2 separate regions of the Homo sapiens genome follow, and region 2 is linked to region 1. The links come from fine-mapping of genetic effects on gene expression. A gene starts in region 1. The other region holds a variant in brackets. All regions are shown on one strand. Distances are from middle to middle. Region 1 holds the start of MIR137HG (MIR137 host gene). Region 2 has its middle 180 kb from the start of LINC01776.

What was found. PIP is the estimated chance that this variant, and not a neighbour inherited with it, causes the effect.
Region 2: its variant is the best candidate, but not a certain one, in a credible set for the expression of MIR137HG in fibroblasts (GTEx, PIP 0.85).

What each region holds. Positions count from the first base shown.
Region 1 is chr1:98,046,445-98,051,834 of GRCh38, reverse strand. MIR137HG (MIR137 host gene) reads left to right here and starts at 2,142. Exons shown (of 5, transcript NR_046105.1): 1 at 2,142-2,457; 2 at 5,208-5,316.
Region 2 is chr1:98,385,979-98,391,368 of GRCh38, reverse strand. No RefSeq gene overlaps it. Among named protein-coding and RNA genes, the nearest start is that of LINC01776, 180 kb to the right of the region's middle. The variant A/G (reference allele first, on the strand shown) is at 2,641.

The sequences.
Region 1 (5,390 bases):
TATTTGGAAAAGTTGATTGTGGGAAAGGATGATAGTATAGCAGGAATATGGAGGTTGAAATAATGTTTAATTTTATAATCAAGATAAATGGTGTAATTGACCTCATCATATCAGGAGCAGGGAGAATCTGAAATGGTTTGATTTGCACACACTTCATTGAGTCTACCAAAAGCATACTGATATCAAATTGCCCAGGGCTATATATTTATTATGAGAATTCATAATTCCAATCCTGTTACATATGTTTTTTTTTTAATTTTGCTGGATCTTATGGAATAAGGATAAGGGAAGATGAAGAAAACTATACTAAATGTGTCAAAATGCTCCTTGTATCACAACAAAGTGGATGGTTTACTCAATGCAGCTAAATTCTCAGAAGAAAAACTGAAGTCACATCTTTAAAGAGCATTTTTCTTAATGTACTACCTATCTGTAAATAAATAGTTTAAACCATAATGAAAGCAAACTTAAAAAGTTGACTCTAGTTAAATATTGGGAGAGACTGAGTAACTTGTGTACCATCAATTTCCTGAGGACTTGGCCAAATTCTGCCTGCACTTTCAGCCTAACCTGCAGGGGGCAATAGCTTGACACGAATGACAACAAAGGCTGCTGAACTATTAGACTTGAATATCTGACTATGACCCTGGAATGTTGTGTAGGTTGGAAAGAGTGCTTAATTAATGTATATTGAAACAAAAGATCAGGTAAATTGTTTGATTTGTCTTCAAGCTATATTTTTAGACTAATTTAATTCATAACTGTTAGGTTTTTTTTTCCTTAAAGAGATTATCAAAGTTTTAGGAGACACATTCATCTTTAGAATTTTCCTGAACACTAATTGTTTACTACAGAATTTATGTAATGTATGTTACCAAAGAAAAGACAGCAGAATCAAAGTGACCATAGTTTTCAGTGTTCAAATGGATGACAAAAATCAGAGGAAATATGGAATTTTGAGATATATTTAATAAAAGATAGTCACATATCTAGATAATAAACCCTATTTCAATATTTTTTAAACCTATAACTATAAATGGGTGGGGGGCAGTCATCCCATTGTTTGCAATATGTCTTCTTTCCATGTATCAAACATTATTTTTTAAAACTGGTTTAAACTTAAAATCACGATCAACAATTAGTGAGTTATCTCTTTTATTGCTATATATTTTTCTATTACAAGTGGAATAGAATTTATTGGCTATCGATAATCCACACTCTCTTTCCCTCCTTCTCGGTATTTCCACTCCCTCCCCCATCCCTATATTTCCCCATCAACTGATCTGGGAAGACTGGAAACAGACCAAAAGGGGTTTTGGCTAGAGAGAGTAATTACAGAATTAGAAAGGAAAACTCTTCTCATCTCCTCACTGCAATCATACTTAATGTTCATTATGTCAATTTTAAATGATACAAAATGCCTTCCCCAAAAGGCATCCTGGTTTTAAGAAGTCAAAAGGGTACCTGGCATTAAACAACCTTGAATCAATCCTGGTGGGATTAACTGGACTGAGTTTCTGTATACTGCACATGCTATGGATCTACTTTGATCACAGTAAGGAAAAAAATGAGAATAGATTTTTTTTTTAAAGAATTGCTGCACAGGAGTGTTCCGTTTCTTTTATATGGCAGAGTTTGATCTTGATAAAAACCTTTTAAAACATCCTTTTCCCCCCACTATGGTAAAGAGATCATATCTGTTTTTGCTTTTCTTTAAGAAAAGAAAATGGGGATTGCTTACACGGGGAAAGAAAATTTTATTCTCCAACACCCCCTCCCATTCTACTAAACCATTTTAGTCGACATATGTTTGTTATCAGAGAGAGGTGCTGTGAACACACAGCCATTTTCTTAGCAGCTTTTTGACTGTATGTTACCATAGTCCCACAAGGCATTGGTCCTTTCCCATTGGGAAGTCATGAATAAGAGACTATGAAGCTTGCACGTCAGATCTTCCTCAATTAATCCACCATTAGCATGTTTGGGATCCACTACTGGATGGTTAACAGCAGCTTTTGTAACTGTACGCCGACCATATCGAATTATGCTCTGCTAAAAATGAACTCTTTGCAGACCAACCCTCTCGGCTGTCAGTGTTTTCCGTTTTCCTATTTTAACGTTTGTGTATAGTGGCAGGCGACAGATGGTGTAGATCAGATCGATTTGATTGCATTAGATGATTTTTTCCCTTCCCCACTCCTTTCTGGAAGCTCGCATCAGCTGAAGGCTATCGCCTGGGACTCCTCGGAAGCATGAGCAAGCCGCCACCACGCGAAGGCACTGGGGCACAGCCAGCGCGAGGCGCCGAGGTCCCTTCCCAAGGCTTGTTAACACTGTAACCCGGCACTCGGAGAGAAGAAGCAGCTCACACTGCCCAGAGCCTACCTCACTGCACATCAGATGACTCCCTGGCTTCTACACACAGTTGGAGTTCCGCTTGAAACCTGGATTTAGAGGGTAAGCACTTCAATCGAGATGGATTTGTGACAGTTACTTTGCCATACAGCAAGACAAATCTCAGCAAACGTAAAGGATGTAGGATGTATGGCAGAGGCAGACTATGTTTACATCGAAAAATGTGTTTCTTTTTGTCTGAGAACGAGAGTATTATTCAGTAAAGATGTGTATACTCTTTTTCCATTGACTGTAAGAGTCGACTACCACCCTCCTCCCGATTTTTTCTCTCTCCTTGGTGTTTCCCCCTTTCTACTTGAGAGGGAAGGAGAGAGGGAGAGGGAGGGAGTCAAGGGGGAAGAGAAAGAGGGAGAAGGGGGGGAGAGAGAGAGAGAGAGAGAGAGAGGCATTTCAGCTTTAGCTTAATTGGCTTATTTCCTCAAACCCATTGCTTTGTCGCGTTTCTTTATGTATTTTTGGTTGCAAATTGCGAAGCGATTAACTGGGATGGGTGTTGGAGTATGGGGGATAGCATAGGAAAGTACTGGGAACCGTCAATCAGTCGCGGTGGCCTTGAGAGATCAAAAGGTGCTGAAAGCCCCCTGCCCGCAAAACACACCTCTAGTTATTGGGGCGCGAGAGAAATGTAGATTCTAATAAACATGGCTTGCAGGAGTCGATGAACAAAGGTACTTAATGCGGACCTAAGCCTCCGCTGATATTGTTCCGCTAGCAGTATCTAAATATTCAAAAGCGAAGTGTAAGTTGATCAACAAACGCCCTGATGGTATTGGGCTTTTTCCCTTTTTTGTTTTTGTGTGGAGGGTGGAGAAGGGGGGGAGGGTGGATGGGTGGGGGAAATCCGACAGCTTAAGGAGGCTTGAATTGAATATGCACCCAGCGGCAGTGGTCTCGTAGGAAATGGTGTTCTCGTAAGTCAGGCTGCCCCGCTCAAGCACGAGAGAGCTTTGGTTAGAGCTCAGAGCGTCAGTTCTGCTGCGAGTGCTGCCGGCAGTCGGCCCGGGTTGAGCTGTCCATTCGTCCAGGTGCTGAAGCTGGTGGAACATTGGGTAGGTAGGGAAAAGGCTGGCACTGCTACTTGGGTAGAAAGAAAGCATATCAACTGCGTTGTTCTAGTTTCTTAAAGCGTGCGAGTCTGTGGGTCAGTGTGTGTATATATTTTATTTTAATTGTGAGGAAGCAAAACTGAAGGAGACTACTTGGAAAGCATTGAAAAGCTGTGTGGGTATTTATGCTGTGATTCTGATGCCCTGTGTATTGGGGTGTGTGTGTGTGTGTGTGTGTGTGTGTGTGTGTGTGCCTCCCTTGACCATCCTTTTGAGTTTATAACGTTCCATTTACTAAATCCAAGCCTATCTGTATAGTGTGTTTCTTGTTTTCCTTTTAATATTAGTTGAGATTTAAATAGAAGAGTGCAGAAGCAAATGTACACTTTGCTCATAGACTATTGCATTACTTTCCCTAAGGGCTTTTGTTTCTAGGAGTTCAAGCTGAAGAGAACCTGTCAGCTTTCTGAATTTTTTTTTTGTCTAGCACCAGAGAAAAGCTCCACTTTATACCTATGTTAGGTAACAACAGAAAATAGTGCTTATTTATTTGTTTTATTGGTATCTGTCCTTTTGTAAGTGGTGTACTTAAGAGTTATCTGAAAATAATGTAAAACAGTCTGGTAGTTGGGCTATATTGGTTTTCTTTCTAGTTATTTTAGGTTCAGACATTATATATTAAACATCTATTCATAAAACCTAGAATTCATGTTGATTTTTCCATCTGTAAGTAACATGTCAAGAAAATGATGAGTTGGTGTGCCCGGAGAAGTATTATAATTTTTAAAAAAATAAGAGCAAACACAACCTAAGCACCTTAAATTGCAACCAGGTCAGTTAGAGATGAGTTGTGGTAGTGGGAGAGATTCTGTTATATAATTACTCCTTGATGAAGAGCTATTTGCACTTACATAATTTGGGAAATCATAATGTCTATTGCCATGTTTCCATATTCCCCCCCATTCCCCTTACATGGATGTACTTTCATGTATTTGAGAGTAAAGGGGAAAGCAAATTGAGAACTTTCTAAGGAAGCTACACCATGTCTTGGGTAGTGACGTTGCACTTGTCCATTTTATTTAGTGAACAATAAACCCCCATTATCAGAATATCCACTGCAGGATCTTAAGACAAAGCTTTTCCAGTAAGAGCCATATTGATCATCAAAGAATCACAGAGATTCTCTCTCTGAATGCCAAAATTACAGTCACTTTGCAAATGAGTTTTTATTGGCTTTTTCTTCTTAAAATAATATTTATGAACACAGAGCTTCAAAGGTTTTTCTGTAGAGGTGTCCACAACAGCTGTACAGCAATGCATTTATAGTATATATTTTAAAAGTGTGCTATGAAATTAAACATTGTAGTGATATAAAATGATGCTTAAATCATAGAAAGTCTACCAGCTTGTCAACTCAGTGAGTTTTGACACTATGGAAAATGGGTTTAATTACTGTGTGCCTTCAAGCTTTTTTTTTTCTTTAAAAATCATTATGTTGTATAGCTATAAGGCCTTCAAAGGAAAGACGCCTATTTTTGTACATCTATAAGTATTTGATTTCAAGTAGTAAATTGAATGAGTGTTTATTTTCCATGATCTTGGGCTTGAGAAAAGTGCATTTCCAAAACACACTACTGAAAATTTCACCCATGCATGACCTATCTTTATTTAAGCCTCACTTCTTCCCAAAGCCGTCTAGGCAAATATATTTGTATTTGTGTGGGTAACTATTCACGTCTCTTACAGGGTTCTCTGGCCGCCATGGCACTCAATCATACCACCTAGAGTGGACTGGCCGAGACCAGACTGGGTACCAAGCAGAGAAGTGCAGAGGAAAGCACTGGGAGAGCACCAGGTAAACTGAAGGTTACTTGTCACTCCCACTTGTGCCCAAAAAGCCTTGCCACATCTTCCCTCCTCACTGGAAAG
Region 2 (5,390 bases), 340 kb before region 1:
GCATGGAGTCTTCCCTGAGAGGTAGATAAGAAAGCCTTAAAAATGTAAAAGTGTACTTAGGACACAGAAATATTCACCAGTAGTGGGTGTATAAAGACATCCTTAAAGCCACAGTTTTACTAGAGAGGATCCCACCAACAGGAGATAGGGCAGTGGACCTCTTGGAATAGCAACACCATTTGGGTAGCAAGGATTATATCACAGGTACCTGTGGCTTCAAATATTACCCAAGTACTCTCTCTTTGAAACAGATTCAAAATGCAGTCTGGAAGGATTTTCAGCCATTGTGATATTTTTAATGTGTATAATCTTTGTAGCTATCTCTCTATTCCTTTACTTACACTTCAGTTTGCTAGATTATTTCTAATATGCTTAAGATTTGTAATGGAGGTCAGTCTCCAGGTTTGGCCAAAGGAGTAACAGCCAAAGTTTGTGAGTTGAGGAGTTATACTGTCAAAAGGTAACCCAGTCCTTAATTTCACTTCAAATATATGGAGATCCCAGTACAGTGATTAAAGACATTTTCATTCAACTCCAAATTCCTTGAAGACATAGGCTGTATCAAGTCATTCATGTAACTTGTAAGAATAATTTCACTTGTATTAGATTTATTTCTTTTAAATGTCCTAATGCAACCAGACTTATTCCGTAAAAACTACACTGAAGGCAATAATAATAAAATTGTCGCTGTAGAGAAATTTGAAAACCCAGAACACAGTAGCTCAGCCCTGTAATCCCAGTGCTTTGGGAGGCCAAGGTGGGAGGATGTCTTGACACCAAGAGTTCAAGATTAGCCTGGGCAACATAGCGAGGCCCTGTCTCTACAAAACAAAAGTAAAAATAAAACCCAGAACACACTAAGAGAGGAAGGAGGGGATTCAATATTCTGCCATAATCCTGACTGAACTCCAAGTCGTTACTGACACCCCACTGATGCCTTATTGAAAATAGTCAGTGTTTGGTTGTAAGAATTTTTCCAGAATTTTGACTTTGAAGTATTTCTTTTCTATTGATTTCCATCATCCTTTTGTTTGGGAATTTGTTCCCTTATTCCTAAATACTTTAATAGCCAGCTAACCGTCCTTCCTCCCTCTAGTTTGCCACATGGCCTCTGGGATTAAACTTCTTAAAACACCACTTGATTGGGCTTTAGATCTTCAATGGTTTCTTTCAATCACTGGATCCTGGATCCATAAGTCCTCAGTGAAGTCTGCCTAAATCCTCTCTCCATCTGAAAGCATTCTTTCTTTCCTTTAAACATTTTCTGTACCCTTTTAATGGCTTCTGATGCAATTCTACTTTTATTACAGTAATTTTCTTCCATAGCTTGTCTTCTGGACTCTACTGTTCTACTGTTGATGTCATGTCTGTGTCTGATTCATCTCTGGTTCCCATCAGGCTCCTGGTAAGAATGCTGAGCACATAGGAGCATAATGCTTTGCTAAGTGAATATTTGTAGGATGAACCAATGGAGACTCTCAGCACTCTAGAAATAGAACTGATAATTTCAGATTCTATAGCCAGTGCAAACTATATGTAATGGTCTTAGCCAAATATATTTATTAAAACCTTGGAACTCTGATCTTATACCTAAGATTCTGTTTAGCAATGAGGTGCAGTGAATTATAAAGCATGACTCCTAGGACATTGTGCTGACTGGGTGGCCAAATATTTACAAAACAATCCAGTTAACCATTGGCTTAGTTTTATCATCCATGAAATGGGGAGAATATCAGCCTCATGTTATTGTTGCTGTGGCTGGCCAAGACATCCTATGTGAAAATGTTATGAAAAGTTACAAGAACTATATAAAGATTCGGGTTATTGTCTTATTTTACAAACACCATTACTAAATTGATTATTTGCTTATCTGCTTCTCCCACATTTTTGCATATGTGAATATATGGACAGGGCTGGGTAAGGTGGCTCATACCCATAATCCCAGCACTTTGGGAAGCCGAGGCAGGAGGATCACTTGAGGATCAGGAGCTCTAGACCAATCTGGCCAACATAGTGAAACCCTGTCTCTACTAAAAATAAAAAAATTAGCCAAGCTTGGTGGCATGTGCCTTTAGTCCCAGCTACTTGAAAGGTTGAGGCATGAGAATCGCCTGAACCCGGGAGGTGGAGGTTGCAGTGAGCTGAGATTGCACCACCGCACTCCAGCCTGGGAGACAGAGTGAGACTCCATCTCAAAAGTGAAAAATAATAAATAAATAAATGAACAAACAAATAAAAATGAGGGAAAAATCTATTTAAACAGTGCTGAGACAAAATATTTTAGTATTCTTTACTATGCCTCTAAATATTTGATAGATTATTAGTAGACATAAACATAGAAGACACTATTTCACATTTGCATGTTAATGAAACATTATAAATTATACATTATTTTCTATGTGGAGTACTGGAACAGTATTCATTTTTTTATGGCCATAAAAACTTAGATTGTCTCCTGAAACAGACATCAAATCCCCTTCTGTAATAGTGCCAGAAAGATCTGCAAGCTTTTTAAACCATCTCTAGTGAAATCACATAGATTTGTTTGTGCCGCTTTGCAACACGCTAGTGTGAAAGTTCATTTTAAACAAAACAGTTTTAATAATGTCATTACTAATGTACATTTGGTCATCACTAAAA[A/G]ATGGGGTTTTAATATGAATGTTTCATTTTAATAAACGGCAGAGGAAGCAAGTTGCCCTGAGTCAGCAGGAAGTGGTTATACACCAGAGAACAGCCTGATTGTGTTAGATTCATCCAGAACACTGAACAACCCAGAGACGGTCCAAGAAAAAACAACTGGCTTTATTCAAATGATTAGGCTTACTGCAGCTCAATACTGAGATTCACACATTCTCCTATTATTTCTTGACCTTGTGCCAGAAACTCCCACTTACAGTAATAATTAGAATTAGTGTTTCCAGTGCATGCCTCCATCTTCCTAACAAACAGTAAAAAAAAGTGGCGCTTACAAACTATGCAGTTAATGAACATTTTCTTTATTTTGTTTGATTAATACAGCACAATTTCCCTAAATCTTTACCATTACACCCAAGTATATCTTACTTTTATAGCTAAATCACTACAAGTACCACTACTAGTACTGTCAATACTAAAATTTTGAAAAGAACCAGTGTTTCTTTCTACCTCTCATTAAATTTTAAGAAACTCCTTTCATTTTCCGGGTCAGAGCACATATGTAAAGCTGTCTTTGACTGCTGTTATTCGGGGTTCTGTGCATTTTTGGTCCAGTAAAGTAGAAAACCGTAAATACCACAAATACTGAATCACAAATGTTGCACTTAGCATATAACACAAATTACTGTGCCTGTTGTTTTAATGAGCACAGTTTGTGGAAAGGTCTGGAAGGGCCCATGAAATCTTTGTAGATGTTGATCAAATGCTTCTGTCTACATTGCCGGTCTGAACCCCTCACCAGGCTTCTCCTTAAGCTCAGCACGCACTTCCACGAGGGGATTGGCAAGAAGAGTCATGTCATATTTATGCGTTCAGTGATTCTTGTAGCTCTGTGGTTATTACCACTCACAGAAGCCTAACACATACATCCTAGGAGTTTACCCTTAGTTGGCAGGACCTAATGGGAAATCAAATAGGAATCATAAGGTGTGAAAAACAAACAGGAGAAAAATAATCAAAACTTAAAGAAATACTTAGTAGAATAAATAGGAAGAGTGAACTGAATTCCTTGTAAGAGATAGAAGTCAGGATTGGAATCCCAAAACCTAGGTTGGACCCCATACCTCTGCCACTAACTGATTTTACTCTGACTGGATGAGGCATCAAGTTAGGAAATTTGGACACTCTGAGCCTTAGTTTTCTTATTTACAAAATTAGGCGAGCAAAATTCCTACTTCAGTCACCTCACTGGTTTGTTGTCAAGAATAAATAAATGGATGCAAGTCTTATAAAGTCTACATGGCTACTGGTTGGTGAGTTTTTGAGTTCATGGCAAGAGACTGTATGGTCAATCCATCACCTTGCTCCCTTGCTTCAAGCCCTTTTTGGCTTCATGCAGCACTTGCTATCCACGCCCCTTGCTTGGCCTACAAGTCCCTCCTAGCCCTGGGCTCTGCTACCCTTTTCAGCATGGTCTCCTACATGCAGCAGCCACATGGGCCTGGGAAGAGGCCAAGATCATTTTCACTTCAAGACCTTTGATATGCAGAGCCCTGTAAATGGAATGCCCTTTCTGGAGAACCTGATGAGGCTGGCCCTTTTTCCTTCTAGCCTAGCTAAATTTTACCTCTTCAGTGGGCCTTTCTTCGCCTCTAGCTACAGTACCTTCTCCCACAGCACTCCCTATCTAACCTATTGTCTTTTTGCAATCTGAAATTATCCTCCCTGCTTCTTCGCTCACCTGATTATCCAAGAGTCCTCACAGAATGTAAGCTAACTAAGAGTGGGACTATTGCCTGTCATGTTCACTGCTTTAAAATTGGCACCTGGAAAAGTGCCCAGCCTGTAGGAGGGACTCAATAAAACTTGTTGACTGACTGATGAATATGACAGTTGGCAGTTCACTGGGAGGGATAGATAGTGGGAAGGGCCCAGCTGGTGTATGAACACCCCGACCACTGCCCTTTTTGTAAACCATGTTAAATGTGTTCTGTGCCTTCATACTATGGCTCCTGGTCTCTTCCTGTCTGAACTACCCATGTATCTCCACTCTATCTTATCTCCCAAGGTAAAAGTAATAATAATAATTATTATTATTGAAAAAAGGAGCAATTATTATTATTGCTGAAAAAAAGGAGCAATATCCTTTTCCTGAGTGATAAATTGACTGATACAAGTCAATTATCTGTCAAGAGTAATAATAATAATTGGGCACTAACTTGTAGCTAAGTATTTTACATATGTAATCTCATTTAAATTCTTAGAATATTTTATTTTTGAGTGAACCAAGGATTAGAGAGATGAAGTAATTTGTAGAAGGTCTCACCACCGCAAGAGGCAGGGCTTGCCCTCAAATGCATGTTGGTGAGAGACTCATGCTATCTCCTGCATCATACTGCTTTGTATATAGCAAAGCCCTTGCGGAGAAGAACTCACACTCTTGCTTCCACACAGCTGGACTCATTTTTTCTTCCCCCCAGTATCCCCTATCCTGGGTGATAAATTGACAGAATTATCAGAGAAATGAATCAGGCAGCTCATGCTCTTGTTTTTTCATTAATGTATATATCTTTTCAGAGGCCTTCTGAATACAAAATAACTGGCAAAGGGACACTCCAGATTGATGATCATAATACTAGCTTACATTTATGGAGCACACACTATGTGTTAGGCATTTGAAGCTTCATGACAACTCTATGAGATATATCATATTTGGATCCCTTCTCACAAATGAGGAAACTGAGCCACAATAGAGT